3 separate regions of the Homo sapiens genome follow, and regions 2 and 3 are each linked to region 1. The links come from fine-mapping of genetic effects on gene expression. A gene starts in region 1. Each other region holds a variant in brackets. All regions are shown on one strand. Distances are between the middles of the regions. Region 1 holds the start of CD93 (CD93 molecule). Region 2 overlaps LINC00656 (long intergenic non-protein coding RNA 656). Region 3 has its middle 7.5 kb from the start of LINC03125.

Region 1 (6,413 bases):
GGGTTCACAGGGCTCCATCTTCCCCTGCATCCTCCCTCCCACTGCCTGGGCTTTGGTCTCCCTGCCCTTCACTCACTCTCTGTCCCCAGGGCTTCTGTACATGCTGTTCCCCCATCCCGACACCATTCCACATCTGAGCTGCTTCTCCTTTAGATTCCGGCTTGACTGCCTGTCTTCTCCAGAGGAGTCTCTCCTAATTGCCCATCCCCCAGTCAGGATGCCACCCCTGTATCAACCACGACCTCCCCGCTCCCCTGTGCTGCCTGCAATAAAGCCATCAGTGCCGTGACTTGTTCAAAGTTGTCCACTCTAACAGGACTCCAGGATCACAGAGGCAGGGATCCCCTCCTGGAATCCAGTGCCTCACTCAGTGCATAGCAGGGTCTTAATCAACAATTGTTAGATGGGTGGATGGACAAACAGATGGATGAATGAAGGGGCACAGGGAGGGTCTGGTGGCTTCTATGGAGAGTTCCCAAAATGTCTCAAATATCTTTGCTAAAATGCAAGGACTTAAGGCACATTCTTAGGAGGTATCCAGCTGGAGTCAGAGATGCCTCCTTGTCCCTTGGGGAGCCAGCGAGCTCCTAGCCCCCGGGACAACTCAACATCTCCATGGAGGCCACTGTGGTGGTCGCTGGTGCCGGGTCCACAGGCGTTCACTGTGTTCTCCACCGTGGCGCTTCTTCCCCTGGGGCCCTCACGGTCAGTGCAGAGCACCAAAGAGTTGCCGCTGTGTAGAGAATTCTTATAATTGTGCATTGCATCCATTTTGAATCTAATTTGGACCCTCTCCTACCAGAAGCAGGGTTTATTGCTCTTGACACGGTGTCTAGGGCTCCACCCCCTCCCAGTTCCTCAATGCGGCCAACCCAGATATCTGCCTTGTACACCCACCTCCTGGTGACCATTTCCCTGTGGGACAGGCAGATACAGCCCATTTGATGGTCTCAGTGACTCCACACCCCACAGGGACTTCCCAGACATGCCGCCATGCCCACCTCTCAGCCACAGGGACCCCACGGAGCCCGTGTCTGTTTGCTCTAAACCCACCAGTGAGAAGTCCCCTTGGGAAACCTGCTTGGGAAACGTCCTGGACCCCAATAAAGGCTTAGGACCCAGGTCTCTCTCTCTCCCTTCACCCCCCTCCAGGTGAGTGTTTGTGACCCAGACAGCTCCCCACTTTTTGCTGGCCCCGTGGGGTGCACTGCCCTCTCCCTGGGATCTGTAAGTGACACGGTGCTTGTGTTGCTTCCTGTGTCTTCTTGTGCTGCCTCCTGCATCTCCCCTGACCCACACCCCAACCCAACTCTCCTCCCATCAGGGATCTCTTAGGAAGTGGCTGTCTTGATAGGAATAAACTGGACATGGGTCAGACGAGAGCCACAAGGGTGTCTGTCCATAGAAACAAGTTTTATGTGAGAGAGACCCCTGGTCACTGGGCAGGGCTAGAATTTATAGTCAGTCTCTCAAAGTGAGAGATACAGCCTGCTACCAATGACAGGGGACTTGGAGAGCAGTGGAGCCTCTCCCTCAGCTGAGATGGTGCTGAGGTGTGGTCCCCTCAGGCCCCCAGAGTTTCCTGGCACTGGCTCCAGCAGCCCAGGGTCACCTTCTCAGCAAGTCATCATGGGTTGGCTTCCTCCTTGTCTGTTTCACTTCCCCTCCCACATAAACTAGTCTCCCCAAATCCTGTCTCAGGGTCCCCTCCTGGGGGATCCCAACCAATGAGCAAAGGTCTGTGGCTGCAGGAAAAGCACACTGTGAGTCCCTGGCTTTTGCCGAGTCGCGGTGTCGCGGGAGGGCCTGCCCGGGCTTCGATTCCCGCTCCCTGCCCAGATTTCCGGCCCTTGCTAGGAATCCTGAGCCGGGGGAAGTGAGCCTGCAAGCCCTGCGCCACGAGGCCGGACACATTTTCATTTTCTTTCTGATGCTTTTTGTGACCCTGACACCTCACAATGCAATATTTCCACTATGAAACCCCCAGAACTGCCAAATTTCACCCAATTTGGATTAACATTATCGAGGAGCTTGGCATTATGTTGAAAACCCAGACATTCCCACGACCCGTATCCTATTTAAAAAATGCCTGTCTATTTAAGGTTCACGATGGGAGGATAAAAGAAAAAAGGCTCCCAAAGTCAACAGAGAACATGAGCTAGGCAAAAGGAAAGTCCAGTTTGCTTCTAAAAAAGGCTGAAAATTATAACCATCCATGGCCTTGTGTCTTAAGTCTCAGAATTTTTTTTTTCTCTTTTGGTGGTTTGCAAACCAAAGTGGAATTTTATTATGGGTTACTAAGGGAGCTTCCTCGAGTTCCTAGCCCCCAAAGCCCCTGCTCACTCCATGGCATGCCTCCGAGGCTCCTCATGCCATGAGAAAGAGAATGGAGCCAAAATCAAGCCGGCAGTATCTCGGGGCTGTAACGTCTTCCCCCCGTCGCTGTTTCCACAGTGCTGAGCCAGGGACCCGGCAGAGCTGCCTGACTCCTTTTATGAACAACAGCACCGTGATGAAGGCAGCAGGAGTCAGAGAACTATTCATTGCAGGAAGCCCCAACATCCGGTGAGAAATAAGAAGTACAACAGTACAGGATGCGCCTTGGGTCAGGGGGACGTGGAAAGCCCTCAGCCTTTGTGTCCTTCTCTGCGCCGGAGTGGCTGCAGCTCACCCCTCAGCTCCCCTTGGGGCCCAGCTGGGAGCCGAGATAGAAGCTCCTGTCGCCGCTGGGCTTCTCGCCTCCCGCAGAGGGCCACACAGAGACCGGGATGGCCACCTCCATGGGCCTGCTGCTGCTGCTGCTGCTGCTCCTGACCCAGCCCGGGGCGGGGACGGGAGCTGACACGGAGGCGGTGGTCTGCGTGGGGACCGCCTGCTACACGGCCCACTCGGGCAAGCTGAGCGCTGCCGAGGCCCAGAACCACTGCAACCAGAACGGGGGCAACCTGGCCACTGTGAAGAGCAAGGAGGAGGCCCAGCACGTCCAGCGAGTACTGGCCCAGCTCCTGAGGCGGGAGGCAGCCCTGACGGCGAGGATGAGCAAGTTCTGGATTGGGCTCCAGCGAGAGAAGGGCAAGTGCCTGGACCCTAGTCTGCCGCTGAAGGGCTTCAGCTGGGTGGGCGGGGGGGAGGACACGCCTTACTCTAACTGGCACAAGGAGCTCCGGAACTCGTGCATCTCCAAGCGCTGTGTGTCTCTGCTGCTGGACCTGTCCCAGCCGCTCCTTCCCAGCCGCCTCCCCAAGTGGTCTGAGGGCCCCTGTGGGAGCCCAGGCTCCCCCGGAAGTAACATTGAGGGCTTCGTGTGCAAGTTCAGCTTCAAAGGCATGTGCCGGCCTCTGGCCCTGGGGGGCCCAGGTCAGGTGACCTACACCACCCCCTTCCAGACCACCAGTTCCTCCTTGGAGGCTGTGCCCTTTGCCTCTGCGGCCAATGTAGCCTGTGGGGAAGGTGACAAGGACGAGACTCAGAGTCATTATTTCCTGTGCAAGGAGAAGGCCCCCGATGTGTTCGACTGGGGCAGCTCGGGCCCCCTCTGTGTCAGCCCCAAGTATGGCTGCAACTTCAACAATGGGGGCTGCCACCAGGACTGCTTTGAAGGGGGGGATGGCTCCTTCCTCTGCGGCTGCCGACCAGGATTCCGGCTGCTGGATGACCTGGTGACCTGTGCCTCTCGAAACCCTTGCAGCTCCAGCCCATGTCGTGGGGGGGCCACGTGCGTCCTGGGACCCCATGGGAAAAACTACACGTGCCGCTGCCCCCAAGGGTACCAGCTGGACTCGAGTCAGCTGGACTGTGTGGACGTGGATGAATGCCAGGACTCCCCCTGTGCCCAGGAGTGTGTCAACACCCCTGGGGGCTTCCGCTGCGAATGCTGGGTTGGCTATGAGCCGGGCGGTCCTGGAGAGGGGGCCTGTCAGGATGTGGATGAGTGTGCTCTGGGTCGCTCGCCTTGCGCCCAGGGCTGCACCAACACAGATGGCTCATTTCACTGCTCCTGTGAGGAGGGCTACGTCCTGGCCGGGGAGGACGGGACTCAGTGCCAGGACGTGGATGAGTGTGTGGGCCCGGGGGGCCCCCTCTGCGACAGCTTGTGCTTCAACACACAAGGGTCCTTCCACTGTGGCTGCCTGCCAGGCTGGGTGCTGGCCCCAAATGGGGTCTCTTGCACCATGGGGCCTGTGTCTCTGGGACCACCATCTGGGCCCCCCGATGAGGAGGACAAAGGAGAGAAAGAAGGGAGCACCGTGCCCCGTGCTGCAACAGCCAGTCCCACAAGGGGCCCCGAGGGCACCCCCAAGGCTACACCCACCACAAGTAGACCTTCGCTGTCATCTGACGCCCCCATCACATCTGCCCCACTCAAGATGCTGGCCCCCAGTGGGTCCCCAGGCGTCTGGAGGGAGCCCAGCATCCATCACGCCACAGCTGCCTCTGGCCCCCAGGAGCCTGCAGGTGGGGACTCCTCCGTGGCCACACAAAACAACGATGGCACTGACGGGCAAAAGCTGCTTTTATTCTACATCCTAGGCACCGTGGTGGCCATCCTACTCCTGCTGGCCCTGGCTCTGGGGCTACTGGTCTATCGCAAGCGGAGAGCGAAGAGGGAGGAGAAGAAGGAGAAGAAGCCCCAGAATGCGGCAGACAGTTACTCCTGGGTTCCAGAGCGAGCTGAGAGCAGGGCCATGGAGAACCAGTACAGGTAAAGGGGGCCCTGAGTGACCGGGGGAGGGGATGGGCAGGCATGGGGGCACTGACTACAGTACAAAGAGGTGGCAGCAAGAGCAGGCCCAGGTTTCCTGTGGGCAGACACACCCTGGTCCTTGCAGCTGACCCCTCAACCTCCCCCCACGCCAGGCACTCGGGCCCCCTTAGAGCATACTGCCCATCTGCAGCACGGCCGCACGTGGGGCTCTCTCCCAAGGTGGGGACGTGCAGGCACAGAGGCGCCATGGCTTCCAACGCTGTCTGTTTTGTTTCCCATAGTCCGACACCTGGGACAGACTGCTGAAAGTGAGGTGGCCCTAGAGACACTAGAGTCACCAGCCACCATCCTCAGAGCTTTGAACTCCCCATTCCAAAGGGGCACCCACATTTTTTTGAAAGACTGGACTGGAATCTTAGCAAACAATTGTAAGTCTCCTCCTTAAAGGCCCCTTGGAACATGCAGGTATTTTCTACGGGTGTTTGATGTTCCTGAAGTGGAAGCTGTGTGTTGGCGTGCCACGGTGGGGATTTCGTGACTCTATAATGATTGTTACTCCCCCTCCCTTTTCAAATTCCAATGTGACCAATTCCGGATCAGGGTGTGAGGAGGCCGGGGCTAAGGGGCTCCCCTGAATATCTTCTCTGCTCACTTCCACCATCTAAGAGGAAAAGGTGAGTTGCTCATGCTGATTAGGATTGAAATGATTTGTTTCTCTTCCTAGGATGAAAACTAAATCAATTAATTATTCAATTAGGTAAGAAGATCTGGTTTTTTGGTCAAAGGGAACATGTTCGGACTGGAAACATTTCTTTACATTTGCATTCCTCCATTTCGCCAGCACAAGTCTTGCTAAATGTGATACTGTTGACATCCTCCAGAATGGCCAGAAGTGCAATTAACCTCTTAGGTGGCAAGGAGGCAGGAAGTGCCTCTTTAGTTCTTACATTTCTAATAGCCTTGGGTTTATTTGCAAAGGAAGCTTGAAAAATATGAGAAAAGTTGCTTGAAGTGCATTACAGGTGTTTGTGAAGTCACATAATCTACGGGGCTAGGGCGAGAGAGGCCAGGGATTTGTTCACAGATACTTGAATTAATTCATCCAAATGTACTGAGGTTACCACACACTTGACTACGGATGTGATCAACACTAACAAGGAAACAAATTCAAGGACAACCTGTCTTTGAGCCAGGGCAGGCCTCAGACACCCTGCCTGTGGCCCCGCCTCCACTTCATCCTGCCCGGAATGCCAGTGCTCCGAGCTCAGACAGAGGAAGCCCTGCAGAAAGTTCCATCAGGCTGTTTCCTAAAGGATGTGTGAACGGGAGATGATGCACTGTGTTTTGAAAGTTGTCATTTTAAAGCATTTTAGCACAGTTCATAGTCCACAGTTGATGCAGCATCCTGAGATTTTAAATCCTGAAGTGTGGGTGGCGCACACACCAAGTAGGGAGCTAGTCAGGCAGTTTGCTTAAGGAACTTTTGTTCTCTGTCTCTTTTCCTTAAAATTGGGGGTAAGGAGGGAAGGAAGAGGGAAAGAGATGACTAACTAAAATCATTTTTACAGCAAAAACTGCTCAAAGCCATTTAAATTATATCCTCATTTTAAAAGTTACATTTGCAAATATTTCTCCCTATGATAATGTAGTCGATAGTGTGCACTCTTTCTCTCTCTCTCTCTCTCTCACACACACACACACACACACA
Region 2 (6,413 bases), 41 kb before region 1:
TCCCGGCAGGGGTCTTATCCGCACAGTTGGAAACACTGGGCTGGCCAAACTCCACCATTCCTTCCAGTGCTGATGGTCTGAGTCTGTTTCCTGAAGTGTGGCCTGAGACCACTTGCAGAAAAATCTCCTGGAAGTGTGTTACAAAGACCCCTTTCTGGAGTTCCTGCTTTCCCTTACAGTCAGATGGGAAGAGGAAGCAGGGATGGTATGCAGAAGGAAATCTGTGGTTTACAGCCTGTGTAGTGTTTTAGGCCAACTCTGGTTTGAGAACTATTTTCTTCTGACCTCCATGTCTTATCAAAGTAGATAAGAAAAATATTCCATGCGAGACATCAGCATTAGGCAAAGAATGAGAATGGAGTGAGGACACCGTGAGCAGCTGGGTGGCCCCTCTGCAGCCAGGGATGGTGCCACTGAGTCTTCTTGTGGTGCTGCATTCCCTTTATTGGAGGGTAACTGGGGAGAAGGCATGTCTCGGGGCCTCCGAGAAGGACTGTGCCCTGGGAGGCCTTCCCTCCCTCCATTTCTCTATCCTCTGCCTTGTCCCCACTTTTCAGGTTATTTCTGCCCTTCACGGTCCCACTCAAGTCCTGCCTCCCTCAGGGAGACCTCCCAGACCTCACCAAGCCGTGGGCACGTGGACCAGAAGCCGTGGACCCCAGAGGCTCATTTAGGGATCTGCTTTCTGAACCCAGGTCCTAACATCTGCACTGCAGCGAGCATTTCTGGTGCCTCAAGTGAGTCACTCCAACTTCCAGGTCAGTGCCCGGCACACGAGGGGTGCTTTTATTAGAGGTATTAGGTGAGGCCTCCCTGCAGGCAGTCCACACCCTCAGCTCCCAGATTTCCACCAGGGTCACCCAGTGGGAAAGGGCAGCTGCCTCTGCATCCCCATGAGCCCAGCTCGCCCTCTCTAAGGGACAGGGACCACCAGCCTCACAGTGGTGGGTGGCAACACCTGGTCATTTTCTGTCATTCTCCTGTCATGATCAGCTCACTGAGAGGCGATGGAGCACTGAGTGCCAGCATCTTCCAGCACCAGAGGAGCTGACTCTGAATAGACAGCTCGGCAGCGGCCTCAGCACAGAGCAGGGGTAAGGGTGGGGCCCACCTGCACTTCCTGGCCGCCTGTTCCCTAAGTGCATATTGATTGAATAGCGCTGCCTCAGAACTAGGCTGCCTGAGTTTGAATTAGGCGCTGGTGTTAATTAGCTGTGTGATCTTGGGTAAGTGACTCAATATATCTGTGCAAGGGGGATAACCATATGGTCTTCCTTATGGGGTTCTCATGATGATTAGTTCATAATATAAAGTTACCCCCCCACCCCATGCAGAGATGAGGCGGAGGGGCTGCCACCAACCAGGATGACGGAGGAAAGGGGGAGATGCTGAGCAGGCTGAGGGTTTCGTGGCTGTCCCTGCTGCTGGCTTCACAGTCTTCTTCCCGCTGTGCCACTGCCCATGCCAAAACCACATTCACCATCTATCCATGCAGCAGGGTGACCTGCAGTGCATGGAACCCCTGGACCCCTCGGCCTCCCAGGGCCAGCCTGCCCCATCCCTCAGCCCGGTCACTGTTCCCAGGCTTTAGGCCCTGTAACTCTGGCCTGTCCAGCTCATTTCCAGCCTACAGACCTCTCTTGGGTCCCCAAACCCTTACTTAGGCCCCAGCCAAGGCAGAGCCTGGCTGTCTTGGACCCTGCCTCTCCCTGCCCAGTGTCCAATAATCCACAGCACTCCCTTCCACAGCCATGGGCCCACCCTTGACAAGGGCTATGTGCCCTGGAACCCGTGCCTCTCACCTTCACGCCAAACTCCTCCTTTTCCTAGACCCCTGATTCCCAGCGGGCCGAGGTCAAGCTGCCTTGCCTAGTTTCTGTCTCCTGTGGCCCCTCGATGCCAGCTCCTCCCTGGCCAATCCCCATTACCAAAGTCCCCCATTCTAACTTCCAGTGCCCAGGCCCCAGTCCAGGCATCTCCGGGTCCATGTACTAACTGCCATGCCCATGTGACCCGAGTACCAACCTCTGCCCACTCCACCTGGAGTTAAACCTCCTGGCTGTGCTTCGGCCAGGCCAAGGGCCCTGATGTGCTGTCCCCAGCCCTTAGTGGCCCACAGCCCCTGGGTTTCCCTGCGTTTTGTGCCCCCTGCTCACATCCTGCTCCGTGAGGCCTGCTGGCTCTGATCTCCAGCCCAGGCCTGGCCCCGCATCAGGGCCCCTTTTCTTCCCAGGCTCATGGCTCCCACTGGTCCCAACTCAGGAGTGAGATTCCTCAGAATCCTGTGGCCCAGACTCCTTTCTTCTCCCACTCAGGCAGCCCCCTCAGTCCTGACTCCTTGGGGTCCCCTTGGTCCCCACCTCTTCGCTTCCTTTGATGCCTCCTTGCCTCTCAGCTTAACCTCTTTACTTTGCTGCCCTCCAGGAATTCTTGATTGTCCCTGACCCCAGCTCAGTCCCCTCCCCGAACCCCACCAAGGCAACCCCCCAGCACTCCTGCCTGCCCTCCCGCATCAGCCCTGATCCTAGTGCCCAAATCACTCTAAGTCCCCTTGCCTTCTGCTATAGCTGTATCTGGTGTTCTAGAATCTTCTGGTCTCTAGTTTTTCTTCCCTCCAGCCTGGCCCCTCAGGTCCCTGCAAGGCAGGACCTGAGCTCCCTAGGCAGGGGTCCCCTCTGCATGTACTCCTGCCCCCTCATTTCTGAGCCCAGGCCCTCAGGCAGGCCCCTCCTGTTGGAACATCTCAGGTTCAGCCTGTGACCCTGGACCCCCAGCGTCTGCCAGGCCCACGGGAGCTCCAAGCTCTGGAGACAGATCCAGACTTCCCCCAGGTCCCCTTTCACCCCAAAGCCACATTGTTTCCATTTAGAGCAGTGGCTGTCAACAGGGTGACACTGGGTGACATCTGATAGGTTTTGGTTGTTGCTCAACACCCTACAGTGCCCAGGACAGTCCCTATCACAGGCAGTGGTTGGCCACAAATGCCCACAGTGGCGAGGTGGGGAGACCCTGGGTTTGAGTGACAGCCTAAACCCAAGGCCCCAGGCTCCCGGGGGTGGGGGCGGAAGGCCAGGAACCCCTCATGTCCTGAGTAAAGTTTACATGTGGTTAGGCTTTGCCAGTGCCGTCCAGTAGTACTTTTTGTGATGATGGACGAGTTCTGTATCTTCATTGTCCCGTACAGGAGCCACCAGCCACAGGCAGCCACTGAGCCCTTGGCATGTAACCCGGTAACCCATGCAACAGAAGACCTGAGCGTCCAGTGTTGCTAGCTTGAAGTAACTTCAGTGGTGTTCCCCAGCGTTTTTCTCATCCCCCTCCCTTCCCTTCCCCTACAGCTTTCTTCCTCTTTCCCCTCCTTCTGAGTCTTTCGTCCCCAGTCCTGGGAACCTTTTTTCTGACTTGGTGTTTTCTCCTGAATGCCTCCTTCCTGGCCCCCTAATCAGAAATGCAGAAGCCACCTGCCCCACACAGGGGGCC[A/G]CTTTCCCTGCATCTGGCACTCACCAGGACAGTCATAGAACTGGCCTTGGGTGCTTGGGGAGAGTGGAGAGGTCTGGGGGGCATCCACTGGCCTCAGCCTCAGAGCTTCTCATCAGTAACCCAGGAGGCAAAGGCCCAGCTCAAGATTAGCCCAGGCCACTGTATCTGTGCCAAGACCTACAGCTGTCCCTGCAGGGCGTGCATCTCTGCAGCCCAGGCTATCACAATGGTGTCCCTTTTGGTGGGGATGTGAGGCCTGCTGCTGCCTGGGAAGAAGCTGACAGGATTGTTGGTGCTGTGGGGAGAAGCTGGTGTAACTGAGACCCATGAGGGAGGCCCTTTGTGGGTCTGTGGCTGGGAGGAGCTCTGGGGAAGATGGGCCTTGAGAAATCCCAGCTTAGCACCTTTGACAGTTGCTCCACTGAGTCACCCTAGACTGCAATCTCACAGATGTTCTAACCACCCTCTCCCTGGGGAGCCCTTGGGGGTGCTGCAAGCCCAGTCCTCACTCACTGGCTTTGTGCTTCTCTTCCCGACTTCCTTTTTTTGCTCCTGTTGAGAAATGTGGGTCCAGGGCTGCGTGCTCCAGTGTGCGGAAGGAAGGGCAGCGTGCTCTTTGGACTGAGCTGGCTCAAGGGAAGCTGGGTCTGAGGGGAGACTGACCTCGACCCTTCTTAAATGAAACACCTTTTCCCTGCGTCTCAGTCACCGTTACCTGGCCTGATCACTGTGTGCCACACCCCATCACATCCATCCCCACAAGAATGCCAGGAGGAGGGGTCATTGGCCTTTTTGTCAGCACAAACCTCTGGAGGCCCAGCTCCCAAGACCCGCCAGGCACACCTGCCAGAGTGCCTTAACTTGGGATGTCTGCAAACCTCTGTCCATGGCCGAACCCACCCCACTGCCTGTTACTGTAAATAAAGGTCTATTAGCATGCCACCATGCCCCTCCTCCGATGCATACAGTGCCCAGCTCAGCACCTGGTGCAAGTAAGCACAATCTGGCTTCCAGCCATCACTGCTGTTGCTACTAACACAAATATTAGGCCCCTTCTAGAATGCAAAGATAACCCAGGGCTGCTCGTTCTGTGTCCAGATCACAGAGTTTTTCTTTTTATCCTTATCAACTTTATTGAGGGATAATTTACAGGCAATAAATCATATCCATTTAAAGTTATTGTCAAGCTTTTAAAGAATTAAAGTTCGTCTTCTTCAGAAGCTTACCGAGGACTACAGGCTGTGGCGTAGAGCCCTGGAGCAGCCTCCACTGAGGTTCTGTATTTCAGGTCACAGTTGACATATAGGTGGGAGGTCCAGTACGTGCAAAGTCACATGAAAGCTTGGGTGTCAGAGTGCATCAGGTTATGGATTCAATTACAGAGCAATAATCACTGACCCTGTCAGATGTTATCTTACGTGTAGGAAAAGGTAAGACCAGGGCCATTTATCTGCAAAGAATATAGTGACTCAGGCAAGAGTCCGGAGAGGGTGTGTGCTCCATCCTGTTTTGTCTTCAGAGCATCTTTCTGGGGAGCTGCACATCGTTATAGAGACAGGCACTTTGTGAAATTCTGCTGCCAAGCACAAATGAGCAAACGTGGTTTCCTATGTTTACTACTTTGTCTCACAAAGCGCACATTCACAGTGCATTATTAAGGGGCCCTGGCAGCACCGCCACAGTGTATCTCTGCTCCCTCTTAAAGTTCCCCGTGCCCCTTGGCAGACAGGCCCCTCTCACTCCTGGGCCCAGGCTACCATTGACCAGCTTTTTGCCACTAGAGGTTAATTTTCATTCTATGTGATTGGAATCATACAGATGTTCTTGTATCTGACTTATTTCACTCCACATAGTGATTCTGAGATTCAAATGTTGTGTGTATCAGTTGTTTGTTCCTTTTTATTCCTGAATGGGAGAGGGGATGTCAAGCTGCACAGTTTTATTCCTGGGCTACAGTGGAGATGGATGGTTCTACCGTCTCTCTGAAACACCATCTGCAGTTTCTTCAAAATCTACCTACACATCTTCCATCCCATCCTGAGGAGTCCCCGAGGGTTGAGAAATGCATGACCCCACACCTGGCTGACGTGTACAACTGGCGGAGTTAGTTTTTCCTGTTGACACTGGCCACGGGCGCCTCAGCATGCACAGCCCTGGCCTTGCTCCTCTAGGCATGCTGGGGGCTTGTCCACACGTGTGGTCTACGGATGGAGGAGAGTGGCCTCTGGCCCATGCGTGCCATGCACTGGACCTTCCCAGGGAATCAAGTTACATGATGTTTCCTTGAGGAGCTACATACAAAGTAAAAAACTGAAATCAAGAATATCAGTCATTTCTGAATATGCCAATTCGCCCATGGTGCAGTTTGTACAGCTTAATCACTGCAGAACAGTTTTGAGGATAAAATTAACCAAAAACCTAAGTAGACAAAATATTCAAATTTTTGGAATCTGTCACAAAAATCCACAGATGACTTATTTTCCATTGTAGCTTATAATGTCCAAAAGCCTTTCTAGTGACTTATAACTGATGGTGAGCTCCCACTCTGTGGCAGCTGTGGGACACTGGTCTAAGGACTACACCCTGATGCCTGGTGAGTTACAGAGGCCATGAGAAGATGTCAGTGAACCTGAAAGCCAGGGAGAGGCTGTGTTCCTGCCGGACTGTGGGGCTCCTTCGCTCCCCTGCTGTGGCCCTTGGTCAGGCCACTTTCCCTCTCTGGGTGTCAGTGGCTTCATCTACGAAGTGATAAAAAACTAATGCAAACCAGAGCAAAATGAGATAACACGGGGACCCCTAATGTCCCAGGGAGATGGTGAACTGAAGCACCGCGTGCGGTGAGTTGTTGCTGTCTCCACCCCTCAAGGAGACCGCAGCTTTGCAGACGTGTGGGTCCCATCATCGGCCCCATTCTACATTCCTCCCTGTGTCCC
Region 3 (6,413 bases), 55 kb before region 1:
TTGTATTCCTGCCTTCTTTCTTTCTTCCCTCCTCACCTCACTCTCCCCCTCTTTTTCTTCCTTCTTTCCTTGGAAATAGAAATTTCTCCAGCATCACTAGCTGCTAAGAAACCAAGAGCTTCTAGATTTTTGTTGCCTACCTGTCCTTTGGTTTGGATGGAATTATCCTATCCCCATAAATCATGTGCTTTCTATACAAATTTACAACTTTGTACAAAATCTAAACTTGGTTCTACAACTCATGAAATAAAAGATGTTAGGAGATTGTTTTGTTGTTGTTTTACCAGATAATAGAATCCCAAAGACAAGTGAAACTTTCAGTGATTCAAAATAGTTTTATTGCAAACTTATTATTTTAAGGATTCCCACAAAATGTGATGAATTTCTAGAATTCTCTCCCTTCTGAATGTCTCTTTTCTCTGGCTTCCTGTGTCCTTCATAAAAAATAACTACACAATCCCTAACACTAGCTGACAGACCCGTGTCACCACTCGCTGGATTTGAAGGTCAGCGCAGTCTCCTTTAACACGGCAGGAAGTGGCTTGCTTTCCATGGGGCTGAGTCATCTGAGGTTTCCCTAGTGCTCAGCACAGAGATGACTGCTTTTCCTGCTTTGGGATTATGAAAATCATACTTATGAAAACAGGAGTGTTAGCATTTTGGAAAAGAGCTTCCCTTTTAAACGATACATGTGTAGATATAAAATTCAAACAATGTAGAAAAATACAGGCAAGAAAGAATATTAGACAGCCCATCACCCAGAAAGGCCTGATATTTAACAGGCGACCGAAATGTGGGGCTCATAACCCATGCATTCAAGACTCTAAAGACCCTGATTACCTTCTTACCTTCATGGTGGTCACATTTTATTGGCTCAATTTGCTACCAGAAATCATCAAAAATCACCACTGCACAGAATGCTTAGCTCACGTGGACTTCGCCACCTACTGAAGTGTAAGCTATAGTACAGGAAATATTATGTTATGAGAAGAGAAGAGAATGCCCTGGCACCCTGTTGTCTAGCAAATGTATCTAGGTCCCCCTCTGCACTGAGTTGGGCTGGTGGCAGGAGTGGGCATTCACGGCACCACTAGGCCTCACTCCGTGCACCTGACCTGGATCGAGCCAGCATTTCCAGGAAAGCCGCCTGCTGTACATCCTTCAGCCTGGGGCTGGGGGCTTCCCTGGCCGGGTTGGACCATAGCCCATGCTGGACCAGAGCCTATCCAGGGGCACTGCTCTGGTATGTTTCCTGGACTGCTGTCGGCCGGCCTAAGACCTCTCCTCAAGGATCCATGCAGGCCTGGCCCACCCACTCTCTCTGTGACCAGATACTACACAGGCTGTGATTTGACAAACTTAGTTCCTTCTGCAACGTTTGCTACTTCCTCTAAGTTCTGTCAGAGGCCTTCTTTTGTGGTTGATTAGTCAAACCTACCCCATTACCCTCGACATGTTGGCCACACCTAGTGCTCAAAGGTGAGCTCCTGAGGCCTTCCCAAACCACCGTACCCAAAACATCAGCCTCTGCCCTTGAGCATCTGGCTTTTTGCATTTTTGTTCATAGCATTTACCTACTCGATAGTATACTTGTGTTTAATTTCATGTTGGCTGCCACCCCACTAGAAGGCAAGCCCTGTGCGGGGGAGGACTTGGTCCGGTTTGTTCATCCCTATATCTCCAGCACATCAAAGTGGCCCTTTGATAAATGCACGTTGAATGAATGCACGCATGAATGAATACACTGCTCCAGACAGGGTTCTCCCACTTTGTTTCCAGCTCTTGGGAGCTGCGTGCAGAATCCATTGGCTTTGATGAAAGGAGAATCCAAGCCTTGGCAGATGTCCGAGCTGACCAAGGCCGTGCAAATGCTTTCATCATGTGTCCCGTCTCAAAGGGTTTTAACAGGAGGTACCGGGAAGTGGGAAAAACTGGAGTTGTGAGATGGTGGGCAGGAGGCTGGAGGAATGGCCCCATCCCAACACTGCCTAATCTCTGCTTGCTCAGCCCTCCACCTCCCCTCAGATCACACTCTTCAGTGTCCCCCTGAAAGCAGAGTCACTATCTCTATGTCAGGGTCCCCTGCCTGCACCTGCTGCTGCTCTTTGGAGCTTTGACGTTTTGTCACTTATCTAGGTGTCTGTTCTCAAAACACTGTGAGGCCCAAGAGGCCAGAGGCACCTGTCATTTGTTTTTCTAAGCCTAATGCCCAGGACACAGATGCCCAGGAGACAGATGCTGGGCATTAGGCTTACAAAGTGAACAGCTACAGATACACGCTGTCCCCAGAGATGATGGCACTGATGCCCAGGAGGCTGGACAAAGGACAGAGAGGGTCTCTTGAGGACCTCTACTCCTGGTGAGGACTTCGCAGCCTGTGCCTTACTTATGGAAGCACAGCCCTCGCAAAGAGCTGGGCTTTGGTTTACTGTAGTGTTCCTGGATTCCTCCCTTCAGAGACTCTGAGGGCCATGGGGACAGCTCCAAGACCAAGCTGCGGTCAAAGCCACCAGGACTGGGTGTCAAGTGGTCAGCAGAGGGACATACCCAGGACCGCTGGCTGCAGCCATGTCCACAATGCTTGACACTCAGCTTAGGCCGACTCAGAGTGGGGTGTGGCTGACAGCCCCCAAAGTCACTCTGGTGCGGGGAGGGAAGCTGGGGTAGCACTGCGTCCTGGAAAACCTGACCCTGAGGACCTCTCCCTTGCTTAGCTAAGAACATTAGGTCACTCTGTTTGCATCATAATGTCTCATGCTTCCCTGTTTAACAATTTTTTAAAATACATTTTTGAATGTTTTCCTTTCAAGTAATCTTGAAAGCCCTGGTTATAAGCTGAATACCTCGGACATGCCATACTTGTTCCTAGGGTCCAAAAGGAATCCATTCAAATTGATAAAATCAATTAATATTTAAAGAACAGATGTAAACACCAGAAGAATTTTTAAAAATAACATAACTAAGGTCAGGTGATGGAGGGAAATAGAAAAAGCACAGTGCTTCGAAAATTCTGTCTAAATCACGGGTACATTATCTCATCAAAGGATAGAGTTACAGGAGTAACAACAAAATGAGCTAGAAATGGAACTCACAATGTCCAAATAAGCAGGAGGAACACACACATCCAAAACAACAC[G/A]CAGAATGTAAGCCAGACACAAAGAGAGAAAGCTTGTGCAAAACATGAAGACAAAACTGAGATTGAGGAGCTCCAGACTTTGTCCAGGATGGACATTTTAATATAGCATTTAAATATATATGGTATAACATAGCATTTAAGTATAATGCTATTTCACCTAAAGGTGAAATCATAAATTTACTGGAAGGAAATGTAGGAGAATTAGAAAAATAAATAATTTTGGGGTAAAGAAGAGAAGTATGAATAAGGGACAAGAAATAAAAACCAAAAAATTAATGCATTAACTGCATATAAAATAGAAATAATCTACATATTAATAAAACAAAACTTAAAAAAATTAAAACATGATACTGTGAAATATATTTGTATCATATATCAAATTCAAAGGGGTTAGTTTTTTTATTTCAAGTTATTATTATTAATCCATGATTAAAAAATCAACAACTCCACAGCAAATGGACAAGGGATAGAGACAGAAACAGAAAAATAACTGCCTCTTTATTTATTTATTTATTTATTTATTTATTTATTTTTATTATTATACTTTAAGTTTTAGGGTACATGTGCACATTGTGCAGGTTAGTTACATATGTATACATGTGCCATGCTGGTGCACTGCACCCACTAACTCGTCATCTAGCATTAGGTATATCTCCCAATGCTATCCCTCCCCCCTCCCCCCACACCACCACAGTCCCCAGAGTGTGATATTCCCCTTCCTGTGTCCATGTGATCTCATTGTTCAAATAACTGCCTCTTATACACAGGGAAAGATGAGAAAAACGCACTCAAAACTGCAGTGAGTTGCTCCTGCTTCACCCGGCAGGTTGGGACCCACCAGGGAGTGTGCCCACACCATGAAGTGAGGATGAGCAGTGTGAACCAGCACCACCTTCACAGAGGGTGATTGGCAGCATCACACAAAGTAAAGAATGCCAACACCACGTGCCTGACGCGTCCCCATGTAAGGACGTTTCCTGTACGTGTCCATACATGCATGTAGGCTCAGATGTTTATCATAGCAAACCCTTTATCCAATGACTGGGGCCAGAGCTGAATAAATCCTACACACACACAAAGCTAACCTCACTCCAAAGCGTTAACAGAACAAGGCAACCCTCTACTCTTGCTCAGAGAGAGAAACTAAGTGTAGAGCTGTGTATATAATATACTATGGTCTCTGTAAAAGCCACAGAGAAAACACCAGTCTGTGCCTCTTTGTGATTAGGTAAGAAACTAGCAATCATCTTTGTAGCTGAGAAGTGCTTTCTAAATTCTAAAATGCCACTTAATCAACCCCTTGTTAAAGGAATTTTTCAGCAGGTAGGGTCTAACATGATCATACACTCAATAGTTTTATTTTCTAGGTCACTTTCAATTTCAAATATCTTGTCTGATGTTAATGTTCATATATTCATCGTTGACTAAACATGTGTCTTAGTTTCTGTGTCTAAGGCCAACAGAAAGAGAATGGGTCCATAAGAGTCAAGGGCCGGAATTTCTTTTCTTGAGAAGCTGCCCTTGCTGGCTTATGCCAGAGCATGTTTTTTGGCCTCCCTCACAGGCCTCACAGTTCTTTGCCTTTCCTCTGCTTATCTTGACTTACATTTCCATATCGTTGCCCTGAAAAAGGGTAGGTAACTTTGACTTCATGCATCTGAAAATCCTTGATCAGACAGCTTTTGGAGAATGAACAATATTTCAGGAGTCAGGCCTTTTTCCCATGCCTTGTCATTCTAGCAGCCCGGCTTCCCTCCTTACCCAGGGGACAGCACAGTGCTTCTGTTTCAGCTGGGTGGTCCCAGAGAGCTTGAGAAGCCCTGCAAATGGATGGGCAAATTGGAGACCTGAGGTAAGCCAGGTGAGGCTGGTGTGTCTGCAACAGCCAGATGCCTTCAGTTGATTGCGGGGGCTGCATGCAATTTTTGTAATGTGAATTTTGCAAGCCTGTTCTGACATTTTCAACATTGATTTTGCAAACCTACCTCTCTGGATTTCTAAGGACTCTTTGGGAATTATTATTATTTGGTCAGATCATTAAAAATGCAAGGGGAGGGTGCTCTAACCAGTCCAACTCGGTGGCAGATGATTTTTTTGGCTACTCTGGAAAGAAATATTAATCTGAGAAACCAAACTCAACATCAGATGCAGGCAAGACAAAAGGGATAAGCAATGAAAAAGGACAGAAAGCCTTCCCCCTCCTCCAGCACCTGTCCTGCCAGGAGCTGTCCCTGGGGATAAAGGGCTTACCATGAATTTCCTCTGCCCTCTTATTAGACCATTGTACAGCCTCATGAAGCAAGTGTTACCCAAAGGACCACCAGGATGGCTGGGTAGTCGAAGAGAGGGCTTTAATGTCAACATCAGTTTGCAAACCAAACTGATGGAGAGAGTTTCCAGCGTGAATCAAAAGTGCTCTCTCTGAAGAACAAATAGAAGGTCAGAGGTTTTATAGAAAGAAGAAATGTTATGCATTGCTCTTTGAGAAATTTCACCAGCACTAGTAAGGTTCTGAGTAGCTGGCAAGCTCTGATTGGGAAGTGACAGCCATGGGCAAAGCTAGTCTGAGAGTTGCAGCAGGTCATTTCAGGAGTCTTAGATAAAACTGGTTTCAGGCTACTGCAGGCAGTTTCAGCTGCTAGGCCTACAGATAATTACATTTTTGGAGCAATGTATTGTGCTCTGGGTGCTATCCCCACTGGATTCTTGACTGTGTTTTAGTTGGGTGTGACAAGAATGGCCCAATCTGTATGATAAGTTTTCACAAAAGGAAAACTTTTCTTGCAAAAAACAAAGCGAAGATAGACTCAGCAGAGCCTTTCCTCAGCCTTCCTGTAGGACAAATTCTTTCCCCAGTGGGAAAGAATTTACAGGACCTGGGATCTGAATGCTTCTGCCTGGCCTTCTAGTCTCAACCTGGGCTTCAGCCCTCAAACCACCTTCCCCCTTAGGCTTCTTGCGTTCCTTCATTTATCCTGTCTTCACCCCCTGCCCCATTAGCCTCCTTCTCTCGGAGACCGTGGGTGGAGTCTTTCCCACTCCCAAAGTCTACCTGGGTGTTTCTTGGGCTCTTTGCCAGGCTGAGGCCCAGGTGCATCCCCAACACCTTCATGTTCCTTGGTTTTGCCCTGAGGGTTGCAGTGCTCCCACCCCCACCTGGGTACTGAGGCCACTGGAGGTTTTCATGTCAAGTGCCCATGAAGCTGGCTGTCCTGTCCTCAGGACAGGGCAATCTTCCTGCTTGAAACCCATTGTGATAAAATAAATGTCAGGCTCA

What was found.
Region 2: its variant is fine-mapped to the expression of CD93 in whole blood (INTERVAL, PIP above 0.99).
Region 3: its variant is fine-mapped to the expression of CD93 in whole blood (TOPMed, PIP above 0.99).

Annotation. Positions count from the first base shown.
Region 1 is chr20:23,082,548-23,088,960 of GRCh38, reverse strand. It overlaps CD93 (CD93 molecule), which reads left to right and starts at 2,637. Exons shown (of 2, transcript NM_012072.4): 1 at 2,637-4,702; 2 at 4,987-6,413. The coding sequence starts at 2,769. The coding sequence ends at 5,011. RefSeq lists enhancers at 807-946, 2,474-2,653.
Region 2 is chr20:23,123,310-23,129,722 of GRCh38, reverse strand. LINC00656 (long intergenic non-protein coding RNA 656) reads left to right here. Exons shown (of 4, transcript NR_034149.1): 2 at 558-758; 3 at 994-1,094; 4 at 3,185-4,655. Among named protein-coding and RNA genes, the nearest start is that of LINC00656, 6.1 kb to the left of the region's middle. The variant A/G (reference allele first, on the strand shown) is at 3,481.
Region 3 is chr20:23,137,396-23,143,808 of GRCh38, reverse strand. No RefSeq gene overlaps it. Among named protein-coding and RNA genes, the nearest start is that of LINC03125, 7.5 kb to the left of the region's middle. RefSeq lists enhancers at 403-697, 6,177-6,413. The variant G/A (reference allele first, on the strand shown) is at 3,137.